4 linked regions of the Homo sapiens genome follow. The protein of the gene in region 4 purifies or fractionates together with the protein of the main gene of each other region. This does not show direct contact. Each region holds a gene or a part of one and is shown on either strand. Other genes may lie near its edges.

What was found. Proteins that work in one complex are often made in the same cells at the same time.
Region 1: the proteins of DCAF4 (region 4) and NR2F6 purify together in Homo sapiens (affinity purification with mass spectrometry; one large-scale study listed by BioGRID and IntAct). This does not show direct contact.
Region 2: the proteins of DCAF4 (region 4) and NEIL2 purify together in Homo sapiens (affinity purification with mass spectrometry; one large-scale study listed by BioGRID and IntAct). This does not show direct contact.
Region 3: the proteins of DCAF4 (region 4) and LONP1 purify together in Homo sapiens (affinity purification with mass spectrometry; 2 studies listed by BioGRID and IntAct, with this or other methods). This does not show direct contact.

The regions. Positions count from the first base shown.
Region 1 is NC_000019.10:17,233,652-17,235,919, reverse strand, and holds part of NR2F6 (nuclear receptor subfamily 2 group F member 6), read left to right. Parts: coding exon 1-421; intron 422-2,268. UniProt on the Homo sapiens protein: Transcription factor predominantly involved in transcriptional repression.
Region 2 is NC_000008.11:11,772,710-11,776,209, reverse strand, and holds part of NEIL2 (endonuclease 8-like 2), read right to left. Parts: intron 1-3,500. UniProt on the Homo sapiens protein: Involved in base excision repair of DNA damaged by oxidation or by mutagenic agents. Has DNA glycosylase activity towards 5-hydroxyuracil and other oxidized derivatives of cytosine with a preference for mismatched double-stranded DNA (DNA bubbles).
Region 3 is NC_000019.10:5,699,647-5,703,146, reverse strand, and holds part of LONP1 (lon protease homolog, mitochondrial isoform 1 precursor), read left to right. Parts: intron 1-2,219; coding exon 2,220-2,358; intron 2,359-3,500. UniProt on the Homo sapiens protein: ATP-dependent serine protease that mediates the selective degradation of misfolded, unassembled or oxidatively damaged polypeptides as well as certain short-lived regulatory proteins in the mitochondrial matrix.
Region 4 is NC_000014.9:72,929,464-72,932,963, forward strand, and holds part of DCAF4 (DDB1- and CUL4-associated factor 4), read left to right. Parts: intron 1-101; exon of another isoform or gene 102-293; coding exon of another isoform or gene 294-357; exon of another isoform or gene 358-501; intron 502-3,500. UniProt on the Homo sapiens protein: May function as a substrate receptor for CUL4-DDB1 E3 ubiquitin-protein ligase complex.

The sequences.
Region 1 (2,268 bases), on a different chromosome or scaffold from region 4:
CTGCGCGCTGAGCCCTACCCTGCGGCGGCCGGACGCTTCGGCGCAGGGGGCGGCGCGGCGGGCGCGGTGCTGGGCATCGACAACGTGTGCGAGCTGGCGGCGCGGCTGCTCTTCAGCACCGTGGAGTGGGCGCGCCACGCGCCCTTCTTCCCCGAGCTGCCGGTGGCCGACCAGGTGGCGCTGCTGCGCCTGAGCTGGAGCGAGCTCTTCGTGCTGAACGCGGCGCAGGCGGCGCTGCCCCTGCACACGGCGCCGCTACTGGCCGCCGCCGGCCTCCACGCCGCGCCTATGGCCGCCGAGCGCGCCGTGGCTTTCATGGACCAGGTGCGCGCCTTCCAGGAGCAGGTGGACAAGCTGGGCCGCCTGCAGGTCGACTCGGCCGAGTATGGCTGCCTCAAGGCCATCGCGCTCTTCACGCCCGGTGAGCCACGCTCCGAAGAGGGCCGCGGGATGGGGGGACCCAAGGGAGGTTAGGAGGAGGGCGGCCTGGACCCAGACTCCGGCCCCCATAGCGCCCCGCTCGCTCCCTAGGCCTGGGGCCCTGCACGCGCCGTGAGTGAACGCTCTTGGGTGGCTGTAGAGGGGTGATGTAAGCAGTGTGACACTGTGACACCCCCACTCCGTGATCCCAGGACTCTCGGAGAACTCTGAACCCCGGACCCCAGACCCAAGGCTGGGCCAGGACCAGGGCCCAGACCCCAGAACCCTCTTCCTGTTCCCAGGCTCCCTGAGACCCCTACTCCCTCACCAAAGGGCTCTTCAGGCTTAGTGAGCACTGATAGCACAAGGTTGGGGGGACGTGGGAGGGAAGGTCCTGACCCCCTGGTTCTGGCCCCCTCAGGCCCCCACTGGGCTCCCAGGGCAACCTCCAGGTAGCCAGGGTTGTAGGGATCTGGGTAGGGGCGTGGCTCGGAGGCCCCTCCCGTTGAGGGGCGGGGCAACCCCAGAACTTTCTTAACCATCAGCTATCTAGCAGTGGTAGCCCATCGTATTCCAGCGACTGGCGGTACAGCCAAATTTTTTTTTTCCACTTTATTTTTTTATTTGTATTTCCATTTTTTGAGACTGGGTCTCACCCTGTCACCCAGGCTGGAGTGCAGTTGTCCGAACACGGTTCACTGCAGCCTTGATCTCCAGGGCTCAAGCAATCCTCCCTCACACTTCAGCCTCTTGAGTAGCTGGGACCACAGGCGTGCACCACCATTCCCGGCTAATTTTTTTTTAAACGTTTTCTGTAGAGACGTGGTCTCACCGTGTTGCCTAGGCTGGTCTTGAGCTTCTGGGCGCAACCAGTCCTGCCTCAGCCACCCAAAGTGCTAGGATTACAGGCATAAGCCACCATGCCTTTAGACAAAGATCTCTCCAGCCTGTCTCCTGGGAGTTCTTTAACCTACTGGAAGTCTCTAGATCCCATCAGAGGTATCTTTGGGGCTAGGAACCAGATCCAGGCTACTCTGGGAGGTGGCTTTCATTTGATAAATATGGTTTTGGGCCTGCAAGGTGGCTCAGGCCTGTAATCACCGCACTTTAGGAAGCAGAGTTGGGAGAACCACTTGAGCCCAGGAGTTCGAGGCTCCAGTGAGCTCTGATTTTCCCACTGCACTTGAGCCTGCGCAACAGAGTGAGACCGCGTCTCAAAAATCAATAAATATGGCTTTATTTATTGTTTTCCCAGAAGATTTTTTTTTTTTTTTTTTGAGACGGAGTCTTACTCCGTCGCCCAGGCTGGAGTGCAGTAGCACGATCTCGGCTCACTGCAACCTCCGCCTCCCTGGTTCAAGCTATTCTCCTGCCTCAGCCTCCTGAGTAGCTGGGATTACAGGCACGCGTCACCACGCCTGGCTAATTTTTGTGTTTTTAGTAGAGACGGGGTTTCATCATGTTGGTCAGGCTGATCTCGAACTCCTGACCTCATGATCTGCCCGCCTCAGCCTCCCAAAGTGCTGGGATTACAGGCGTGAGCCACCGCGCCTGGCCTTCCCAGATTTCTTCTTGGCTTCCTATCTTGGGTCTCTCTCTAGAGGCTGCCACATTCTCTCACACCGTAGGCCCTTCTGGGCTCTGTCTTCCTCATCAAATTCCCTTCCCAGCCCCACCTTCCCTGCGAGCTTCCTTAGAACCCATCTCCTTGGCCTGGCTGGTGGCCCTGTAATCCCAGCACTTTGGGAGGCCGAGGTGGGGAGATTGCTTGAGGTCAGGAGTTCAAGACCAGCCTGGCCAACACAGCAAAACCCGTCTCTACTAAAAATACAAAAATTAGCTAGGCGT
Region 2 (3,500 bases), on a different chromosome or scaffold from region 4:
TGCTGCCATGTAAGACATGCCTTTGCTTCTCCTTTGCCTTCCACCATGATTATGAGGACTCCCCAGACATGTGGAATTGTGAGTCCACTAAACCTCTTCCCTTTATAAATTACCAAGTCTTGGTTATGTCTTTATCAGCAGCATGAGAACAGACTAATACTGTAAACTGGTATTGGGAGGGGGGCATTGCTGTAAAGACATCTAAAAATGCGGAAGCAACTTTGGAACTGGGTAACAGGCAGAGGTTGAAACAGTCTGGAGGGCTCAGAAGAAGACAGGAAAATGTGGGAAAGTTTGGAACTTCCTAGATACTTGTTGAATGGCTTTGATCAAAATGCTGATAGTGATATGGACAATAAGGTACAGGCTGAAGTGGTCTCAGATGGAGATGAGGAACTTGCTGGGAACTAGAGTAAAGGTGATTCTTGCTGTGCTAAGAGACTGGTGGCATTTTGCCCCTGCCCTAGAGATCTATGGAAATTTGAACTTGAGAGACATGATTATGGCATCTGGTGAAAGAAATTTCTAAGTGGCAAAGCATTCAAGAGGAAGCAGAGCACAGAAGTTTGAAAAATTTGCAGCCTGATGATGCAGTAGAAAAGAAAAACCCATTTTCTGGGGAGAAATTCAAGCTGGCTGCAGAAATTTGCATAAGTAACTAGGAGTCAAATGCTAACCACCAAGCCAATAAGGAAAATGTCTCCAGAGCATGTCAGAGACCTTCACAGCAGCCCCTCCCATCACAGGTCCAGACACCTAGAAGGAAAAAATGGTTTCCTGGGCCAGATCCAGGGCCCCCTCTGCTGTGTGCAGCCTAGGGACTTGGTGCCCTGTGTCCTAGCCCCTCCAGCCATGGCTAAAAAGCGCCAATGTACAACCCAGGCTGCTGCTTCAGAGGGTACAAGCCCCAAGCCTTGGCGGTTCACATGTGGTGTTGAGCCTGCAGGTGCACAGAAGTTAAGAATGGAGGTTTGGAAACCTCCACCTAGATTTCTGAGGATGTATAGAAACAACGGGATGTCCAGGCAGAGGTGTGCTGCAGGGGCAGAGCCCTCATTGAGAACCTCTGCTAGGGCAGTGCAGAAGGAAAAGACGGGGTTAGAGCCCCAAGGCAGAGTTCCCACTGGGGCACTGCCTAGTAGAGCTGTGAGAAGAGGGCCACTGTCCTCCAGACCCCAGAATGGTAGATCTACTGACAGCTTGCACCCTGCCCTGGAAAACACACAGACACTCAATGCCAGCCTGTGAAAGCAGCCAGGATGACGGACTGTACCCTACCAAAGCCACAGAGGCAGAGCTGCCCAAGGCCGTGGGAGTCTACCTCTTGCATCAGCGTGCCCTGGATGAGAGACATGGAGTCAAAGATCATTTTGGAGCTTTAAGATTTGACTGCCTCACTGGATTTCAGACTTGCATGGGGCCTGTAGCCCCTTCGTTTTGGCCAATTTCTCCCATTTGAAACAGGTGTATTTACCCAATGCCTGTACCCCCATTGTATCTAGGAAGTAACTAACTTGCTTTTGATTTTACAGGCTCATAGGTGGAAGCAACCTGCCTTGTCTCAGATGAGACTTTGGACTGTGGCCTATTAAATTAATGCTGAAATGAATTAAGACTTTTGGGGACTGTTGGGAAGGCATGATTGGTTTTGAAATGTGAGGACTTGTGCTTTGGAAGGGCCTGGGGGTGGAATAATATAACTCCCATGATTCCCATGTGTTATGGGACGGACCTGGTGGGAGGTACCCAGTGGGAGGTAATTGAATCATGGGGGCTGTTCTCGTGATAGTAAATAAGTCTCAAGAGATCTGATGGGTTTTTTGTTGTTGTTGTTTTTCAGATGGAGTCTCACTCTGTTGCTGAGGCTGGAGCGCAGGTGCGATCTCAGCTCACTGCAACCTCTGTCTCCTGGGTTCAAGCAATTCTCCTGCCTCAGCCTCCCAAGTAGCTGGGATTACAGGCGCCCACCACCATGCCCAGCTAATTTGTGCATCTTTAGTAGAGATGGGGTTTAACATGTTGGCCAGGCTGGTCTCAAACTCCTGACCTCAGGCGACCTGCCCACCTCTGCCTCCCAAAGTGCTGGGATTACAGGCATGAGCCACTGCACCTGGCCTGACGGTTTTATAAATGGTAATTCCCCTGCACAAGCTCTCTTGCCTTCCACCATGTAGGATGTGCCTTTGTTTCCCCTTCGCCTACTGCCATAATTGCGAGGCCTCCCCAGCCATGCAGAACTGTGAGTCCATTAAACCTCTTTCCTTCATAAATTACCCAGTCTTGGAAGGGGAGAGTAGAAGGAGCTTGGTTTCCAATGTTGCTCCTATACCACCCTGGACTGTTCCATTACTGGAGGAGGAGAAAACCATGAGCTAGAGTAGCCATTTTTCTGAGTCTGTTATGAGTAATCCAACACAACTCCTATATAGAAAATGGAGAGCTGACAAGAAAAGGATGTGCCAGACAAACAGATGGCACAGAGTGCAGCCAAGCTCCCTCCTGCCTCATCAACTCACCCTGCTCACTCCACCTCCATCGGCCCGCCTGTAACTGCTTCTCAAGCCTGAAATGCCCTTTCCTCCCTCTTCAGTCCACTGAAATCCTCCAGCCTTCAAGGCCCAACTCAAGTCCTACCTCCTGCACATCTTCTCCAGGCCACCGGGACCTCTTCCTGTCAGGGTCATTACCTGGGCCTTTATGATGTGCTCTGCCCTCCCCATTTAGCATAGCTTAATAGTGTGGCCTGTGTCGATACAAGCCGTATGTTCTCAATTCAGTTCTAAGTTCCTAGGGTCAGGGACCCGCCGACAGGGAGAAGCAGGGAAGGGCGCTCACTTCAAAGCACTGCCAGGCAGCCCCGAAGGTTCCCTGCAACCTTAGGTTCCCTGCAACATGGTTTTCTGCTTGGTTTACTGGGAAAGCAGCTCCCAGTCCCGTCTACGGGTTCCTTCACCGCACATCCATCTGCCCACCCATCCACTTGGGAAATATTCTCTTACAGCCAGCTCTGTGGCAGACACCCTGGTAAGTGCTGGGGATCCAGAGACAAGAGACAATTCTGCCCCTGCAAACCTCGAAGGACAGTGTGTACAAAGAGGCCACAGTCCTGGAGGCCATGGGACCCCGTGCTCTCACCTGTTCCTTGCCAGCCACCTGAGCTTGGGCTAAGTACTCCCTTCTCCGAGCCTCAGTCTCCAAAGGAATCAACTATGGGTACAGGGCTACAGGATCTCTTCCAGTTCTAACTAACAACGGTTTTAAAACCTCTGTGTGTGTGTGTTGCGGGGGTGGGGGGTGAGGGCAAGATGGAAGAAAGGGAACTAGTACTTATGGAGTACCCGTTATGTGCCAGGCATAAACTCTACTTAAAACAACAACTTTAAGAGGTCAATGGCTTATCTCCATTCTACAATAGAAGAAAGAGCTATGAGATGAACATGCTTAAGAGCACACGGCTAAGCAGCAGCAGAGCGCGTGAGCTCATCCACAGGCACCACCCG
Region 3 (3,500 bases), on a different chromosome or scaffold from region 4:
TGCAGTGGCACGATCTCGGCTCACTGCAAGCTCCGCCTCTCGGGTTCATGCCATTCTCCTGCCTCAGCCTCCCGAGTAGCTGGAACTACAGGTGTCCGCTGCCACGCCCAGCTAATTTTTTTTTTTTTTTTTATTGATCATTCTTGGGTGTTTCTCGCAGAGGGGGATTTGGCAGGGTCATAGGACAATAGTGGAGGGAGGGTCAGCAGATAAACAAGTGAACAAGGGTCTCTGGTTTTCCTAGGCAGAGGACCCTGCGGCCTTCCGCAGTGTTTGTGTCCCTGGGTACTTGAGATTAGGGAGTGGTGATGACTCTTAACCAGCATGCTGCCTTCAAGCATCTGTTTAACAAAGCACATCTTGCACCGCCCTTAATCCATTTAACCCTGAGTGGACACAGCACATGTTTCAGAGAGCACAGGGTTGGGGGTAAGGTCACCGATCAACAGGATCCCAAGGCAGAAGAATTTTTCTTAGTACAGAACAAAATGAAAAGTCTCTCATGTCTACTTCTTTCTACACAGACACGGCAACCATCCGATTTCTCAATCCTTTCCCCCTTTTCTATTCCACAAAACTGCCATTGTCATCATGGCCCGTTCTCAATGAGCTGTTGGGTACACCTCCCAGATGGGGCGGCTGGCCGGGCGGGGGGCTGACCCCCACTCCTCCCTCCCAGAGGGGGCGGCTGGCCAGGCAGAGGGGCTCCTCACTTCCCAGTAGGGGCGGCCGGGCAGAGGCGCCCCTCACCTCCCGGACGGGGCGGCTGGCCGGGCGGGGGGCTGACCCCCCCACCTCCCTCCCGGACGGGGCGGCTGGCTGGGCGGGGGGCTGACGCCTCCACCTCCCTCCCGGATGGGGCAGCTGGCCTGGTGGGGGGCTGACCCCCCCCCCAACCTCCCTCCCAGACGGGGCGGCTAGCCGGGCGGGGGGCTGACCCCCACTCCTCCCTCCCGGAGGGGGCGGCTGGCCGGGCAGAGGGGCTCCTCACTTCCCAGTAGGGGCGGCCGGGCAGAGGCGCCCCTCACCTCCCGGACGGGGCGGCTGGCCGGGTGGGGGGCTGACCCCCCCACCTCCCTCCCGGACGGGGTGGCTGCTGGGCGGAGACGCTCCTCACTTCTCAGACGGGTCGGTTGCCAGGCAGAGGGTCTCCTCACTTCTCAGGGCTGCCGGGCAGAGACGCTCTTCCCCTCCCAGACGGGGTCGCGGCCGGGCAGAGGCGCTCCTCATATCCCAGACAGGGCGGCGGGGCAGAGGCGCTCCCCACATCTCAGATGATGGGCGGCCGGGCAGAGACGCTCCTCACCTTCCAGACTGGGCAGCCAGGCAGAGGGGCTCCTCACATCCCAGACGATGGGCGGCCAGGCAGAGACGCTCCTCACTTCCCAGACAGGGTGGCGGCCGGGCAGAGGCTGCAATCTCGGCACTTTGGGAGGCTAAGGCAGGCGGCTGGGAGGTGGAGGTTGTAGCGAGCCGAGATCACGCCACTGCACTCCAGCCTGGGCACCATTGAGCACTGAGTGAACGAGACTCCGTCTGCAATCCCGGCACCTCGGGAGGCCGAGGCCGGCGGACCACTCGCGGTTAGGACCTGGAGACCAGCCCGGCCAACACAGTGAAACCCCGTCTCCACCAAAAAAATAGGAAAACCAGTCAGGCGTGGCGGCGCGCGCCTGCAATCGCAGGCACTCGGCAGGCTCAGGCAGGAGAACCAGGCAGGGAGGTTGCAGTGAGCCAAGATGGCAGCACACAGTCCAGCCTCGGCTCGGCATCAGAGGGAGACCATGGAAAGAGGGAAAGGGGAGACCGTGGAAAGGGGAGAGGCAGAGGGCAGAGGCAGAGGCAGAAGCATTTTTTGTATTTTTAGTAGAGACAGGGTTTCACCGTGCTAGCCAGGATGGTCTCGATCTCCTGACCTTGTGATCCGCCTGCCTCGGCCTCCCAAAATTCTGGGATTACAGGCGTGAGCCACTGTGCCTGGCCTGTAAATTGTTTTATAGAGATGGGGTCTTGCTGAGTTGCTCAGGCTGGTCTTGAACTCCTGGGCTCAAGTGATCCTCCCACCTGGGCCTCCCAAAGAGCTGGGATTACAGGCGTGAGCCACCGCGCTCAGCCCCACACATGGGTTTCAAGCCCCTTGCAACCACCCAGCCAAGTCCAGCAGAGAGACAGGCAGCTCGTGAGCTCCACTCAGCATCTCTCCATCTGTCCCCTGGCAGTGTCACCCGCAACTACCTAGACTGGCTCACGTCCATCCCTTGGGGCAAGTACAGCAACGAGAACCTGGACCTGGCGCGGGCACAGGCAGTGCTGGAGGAAGACCACTACGGCATGGAGGACGTCAAGAAACGCATCCTGGTGAGCCCAGTGTCTGGCCTGTTGTGGATTTGCATGTGGGTGCCCGGGCCCAGGACTCTTGTGTGCTGTGGGTTGAGATTTCAAAGGAGCCCCCTGGTGAATTCGTAGGCCTGGGGGTGCTGGTCGGGGGGATCCCGGCGGAGGTAGCATCCTGCCCTGCCCCCGAGGGCTCGAGGATTTCCCAGGTGGACTGAAGTCATGCCTGACGGGCCGGGCATGGTGGGGCTGCTTGTAGTCCCAGTTACTCAGGAGGCTGAGGCGGGAGGATCACTTGAGCCCAGGAAGTTGAGGCTGTGGTGAGCTGTGATCATGCCACTGCACATCAGGTTGGGTGACAGAGTGAGACCCCCATCTCTACAAAAAATTTTAAAATTGCGGCTGGGCGCTGTGGCTCATGCCTGTAATCCCAGCACTTTGGGAGGCTGAGGCATGCAGATCACCTGAGGTCGGGAGTTGAAGACCAGCCTGACCAACATGGAGAAACCCCATCTATACTAAAAATACAAAATTAGTTAGGCGTGGTGGCGCATGCCTGTAATCCCAGCTACTTGGGAGGCTGAGGCAGGAGAATCGCTTGAACCCAGGAGCCAGAGGTTGCAGTGAGCCCAGATCGTGCCATTGCACTCCAGCCTGGGCAACAAGAGTGAAACTCCGTCTCAAAAAGGAAAAAAAATTTTTTTTAATTAGCCTGGTGTGATGTTGCGTGTCTGCAGTCCCAGCTACTTGGGAGGCTGAGGTGGGAGGACTGCTTGAGCCCGGGAGGTGGAGGCTGCAGTGAGCTGTGATGCACCACTACACTCCAGCCTGGGTGACAGAGCGAGACCTTGTCTGAAAATTAATTAATTTTAAATTAATTTTTAAAATATCACTCCTGAGACATTGGAAACCAGGCAGGCAGGTGGGAGTCAAAGGTTAAAAAACAGGAGTCAGAGCCTGGGCATGGTGGCTCACACCTGTAATCCCAGCACTTGGGGAGGCCGAGGCGGGTGGATCACAAGGTCAGGAGTTCGAGACCAGCCTGACCAACATGGTGAAACCTCGCCTCTACTAAAAATACAAAAAAAGTAGCCAGGCATGGTGACTCACACCTGTAATCCCAGCTACTCAGGAGGCTGAGGCAGGAGAATTGCTTGAACCCAGGA
Region 4 (3,500 bases):
AGGCAGGAGGATCGCTGGAGGCCAGAAATTCGAGACCAGCCTGGGCGGCAACAAAGCGAGACCCCGTCTCTACAAAAATATTTTTTATTTTTATTTTATTTTTCCGTCAAGCTGTTCTTTATTTCAGGAAGAGGGCAGGGGAGGGGGCTCAGTCTTTCTTGGCAGCGGCTTTCCTCATGGCAGCCAGTACCTTGCTCAGCTCCTCCCGCTTCCTCTTGGCACGGATGTGCGTCCCCACCCTTTTCTTGATGAACTTGAGGGCCCATTTCTCCTTGAAGACCTTCAGTGACTCCATGGCGCGCAGCTCGTACGAAGCGAAGCCACACACCTCCCGGATCATGTCCCGCTACAAACTTGGTGCGTTTGCTCAGACGCCCGCGGCGGCGGCTGTGCCTGGGCTTGCTCACGTTCTTGGTCACCTTGTGGCCCTTGTTGAGGCCCACGGCCATAAGGTAGCGCAGAGCCATGGCTGCTGCTCTCCATGGCGGCCGTGGCGGAAGGCCAAAAATATTTTTTAAATTAGCCTGGTGTTGTGGCTCGTGCCTGTAATTCCGGCTACTCCGAGGTTGAGGCAGGAGGACGGCTTGAGCCGGGGAGATGGAGGTTGCCGGGAGCGGAGATCGCGCCACTGCACTTCAGCCAAAAGGGGGGTAGGAGGGAATAAGTAAATAAAATTAAATAAATAAAGTGGTATCTCACTGTGGTTTTGATTTGCATCTACCTAAGGACTAATGATGTTGGGTATCTTTTCATGTGCCAGTTGGCTATTTGTGTAGCTTTTTCTTTTTTTTTTTTGAGACGGAGTTTTTTTTGTTTGTTTTTGAGACGGAGTTTCGCTCTTGTCGCCCAGGCTGCAATGCAGTGGCACCATCTCGGCTCACTGCAGCCTCCACCTCCCGGGTTCAAGCGATTGTTCTGGCTCAGCCTCCCAAATAGCTGGGACCACAGGCGCCCGCCACCACACCGAGCTGATTTTTGTATTTTTAGTAGAGACGGGGCTTCGCCATGTTTATCAGGCTGGGCTTGAACTGCTGTCCTCAAGTGATCCGCCAGTCCCAGCCTCCCAAAGTGCTGGGATTACAGGCGTGAGCCACTGTGTCCGGCCCTAAATAATGTCTTTCGATGCACGGAAGTTTTCAATTTTGATGAAGCCCAATTTATGTGTGTATGTGTGTGTGTATATATATATATGTAGTGTGTGTGAGTTTTGGGTGTCATATTTGAGAAATCATTGCCTAATCAAGATCATGATGATTTATACCTTTGTTTCCTTCAAAGAGTTTTATAGTTTTAGATCGAGATCCATTTTGGTTCATTTTTGTCCCATATGGTATGAAGTAAGGATCCAAATTCATTCTTTTGCAGTTTGATATTCAAATGTCCCAGCAGTTGAAAAGACACTTCTTTCTTTCATTGAATGGTCTTGGCACCTAGATGAAAACCAGTTGACCATAGATAGGCATATGGGTTTATTTCTGGTCTCAATGCTACTCCATTGATCTATATTTCTATCCATATGCCAGTAACACAGTGTCTTGATTACTGTAGCTGTGTAATGAATTTTGAAATTGCGAGGTGCGAGTCATCCCAACTTTGTTCTTTTTCAAGATGATTTTGGGTATTCTGGGTCCCTTGCATAATATGAATTTAGGATCTGCTTTTCCATTGCTAAAAAAATGGCATTTGGAATTTTGATAGGGATTGCATTCAATCTGTAATTTCTTTCAACAGTGTTTTATAGTTTTCTGTGTACACGCCATATATTAATTTTGTTAAATATATTCCTAAGTACTTTTTCTCTTTTTTTTTTTTTTTTTTGTAACTGAGCCTGAGCAGGACCAGAGGAGTGCTTTATTCTTTTTGATGCCATTGTAAATGTAACTTTTCTTTCATATTCAGGCTGTTCATTGCCTGAACCAGTGTATAGAAATACAACTGGTTTTTCTATATTGATCTTGTATCCTGCAACCTTGCTGAATTCATTTGTGAGGTCCAGTAGATTTTTGGTGGATTCTTTAGGATTTTCTGTATATAAGATCATGTTTGGTTGCCTTTTCTTTGTCTTGCCTAATTGCCTGTCTAAAACTTCCACTACAATGTTGAACAGATGTATTGAGAACCAACATCTTTGTCTTATTCCTGACCATAGAGGGAAAACTTTGTCTTTGGCCACTAAGTATGATGTTAGGTGTGGGTATTTTGTAGATGCTCCTTATCAGGTTGAGGAAACTACCTTCTGTTTCTAGTATGTTGAATGTTTTTTTAATCATGAGAGGATGTTGCATTTTGTCCAGTGCTTTTTCTGTGTATCAATTGAGAAAATCATGTGAGGTTTTCCCCATCTATTAGTATGGTATATTGATTGATTTTCATATGTTGAACCAACCTTATATTTCTGAGATAAATCGCGCTTGGTCTTGGTATATAATTCTTTTTATATGCTCCTGGATTTTGCTTGCTAGCATTTTGTTAAGGATTTTTGTGTCTCTGTATTCATAACCCATACTGACCTATATTTTTCCTTCTTTTTTTTTTTTTTTTGAGAGATGGAGTCTTGCTCTGTTGCCCAGGCGGGAGTGCAGTGGCATGATCTCGGCTCACTGCAACCTCTGCCTCCCAGGTTCAAGCGATTCTCCTGCCTCAGCTTCCCAAGTAGCTGAGACTACAGGTGTGCACCACCACGCCTAACTAATTTTTTGTATTTTGGTAGAGATGAGGTTTCACTCTATGTTGGCCAGGCTGGTCTTGAACTCCTGACCTCAGGCGATCTGCCTGCCTTGGCCTCCCAAAGTGCTGGGCTTACAGGCGTGAGCCACTGCACCCGGCCTTGACCTATATTTTTCTTCCTATATCTTTGTCTGATTTTGGTAACAAGGTAATACTGGCCTTATAAAATGATTCGGAAAAATGTAGTAAATATCTTGGAATCATTTTTGTAGGAGCAGTTCCCAGAAGGAAGGCATGTACATTTGTAAGTTACTTGATAAATATTTTCCAGTCATTTTCCAAAAAACCAAATTGTGTTTATTTGTGATTAACATTGCCTTTGCAGAATAGTAGTCTCTTAGAAATTATAATTCTTAATGCCTTGAGGTACTTAAAAGTTTCTCTGAAAGACAAAGGCAAGCCCAACCTTCTGCAACACACCTGATTTTAACATCTAGAGCAGCTCCAAAGGTGCTAGATGCAGCATGTTACCAGCAAATTGTTTTCGAGTGCTTCCTACATAGAACAGGTTTTCTCAGCTTTAGCACTGTTTTGGGCCAGGTAACTCTTTTGTTGTTGTTTTTGAGATGGAGTCTTGCTATGTTGCCCACACTGGTCTCAAACTCTGGACTCAAGCCATCCTCCCACCTCAGCCTCCCAAGCAGTTGGAACTGCAAGTGTGAGCCATCACACCCAGCTGAATAATTTTTTTTTCTTTCTTTCTTTCTTTCTTTTTTTTAATGTTGTTTGTTTGAGACGGGATCTTGCTATGTTGCGCAGGCTGGTCTTGAACT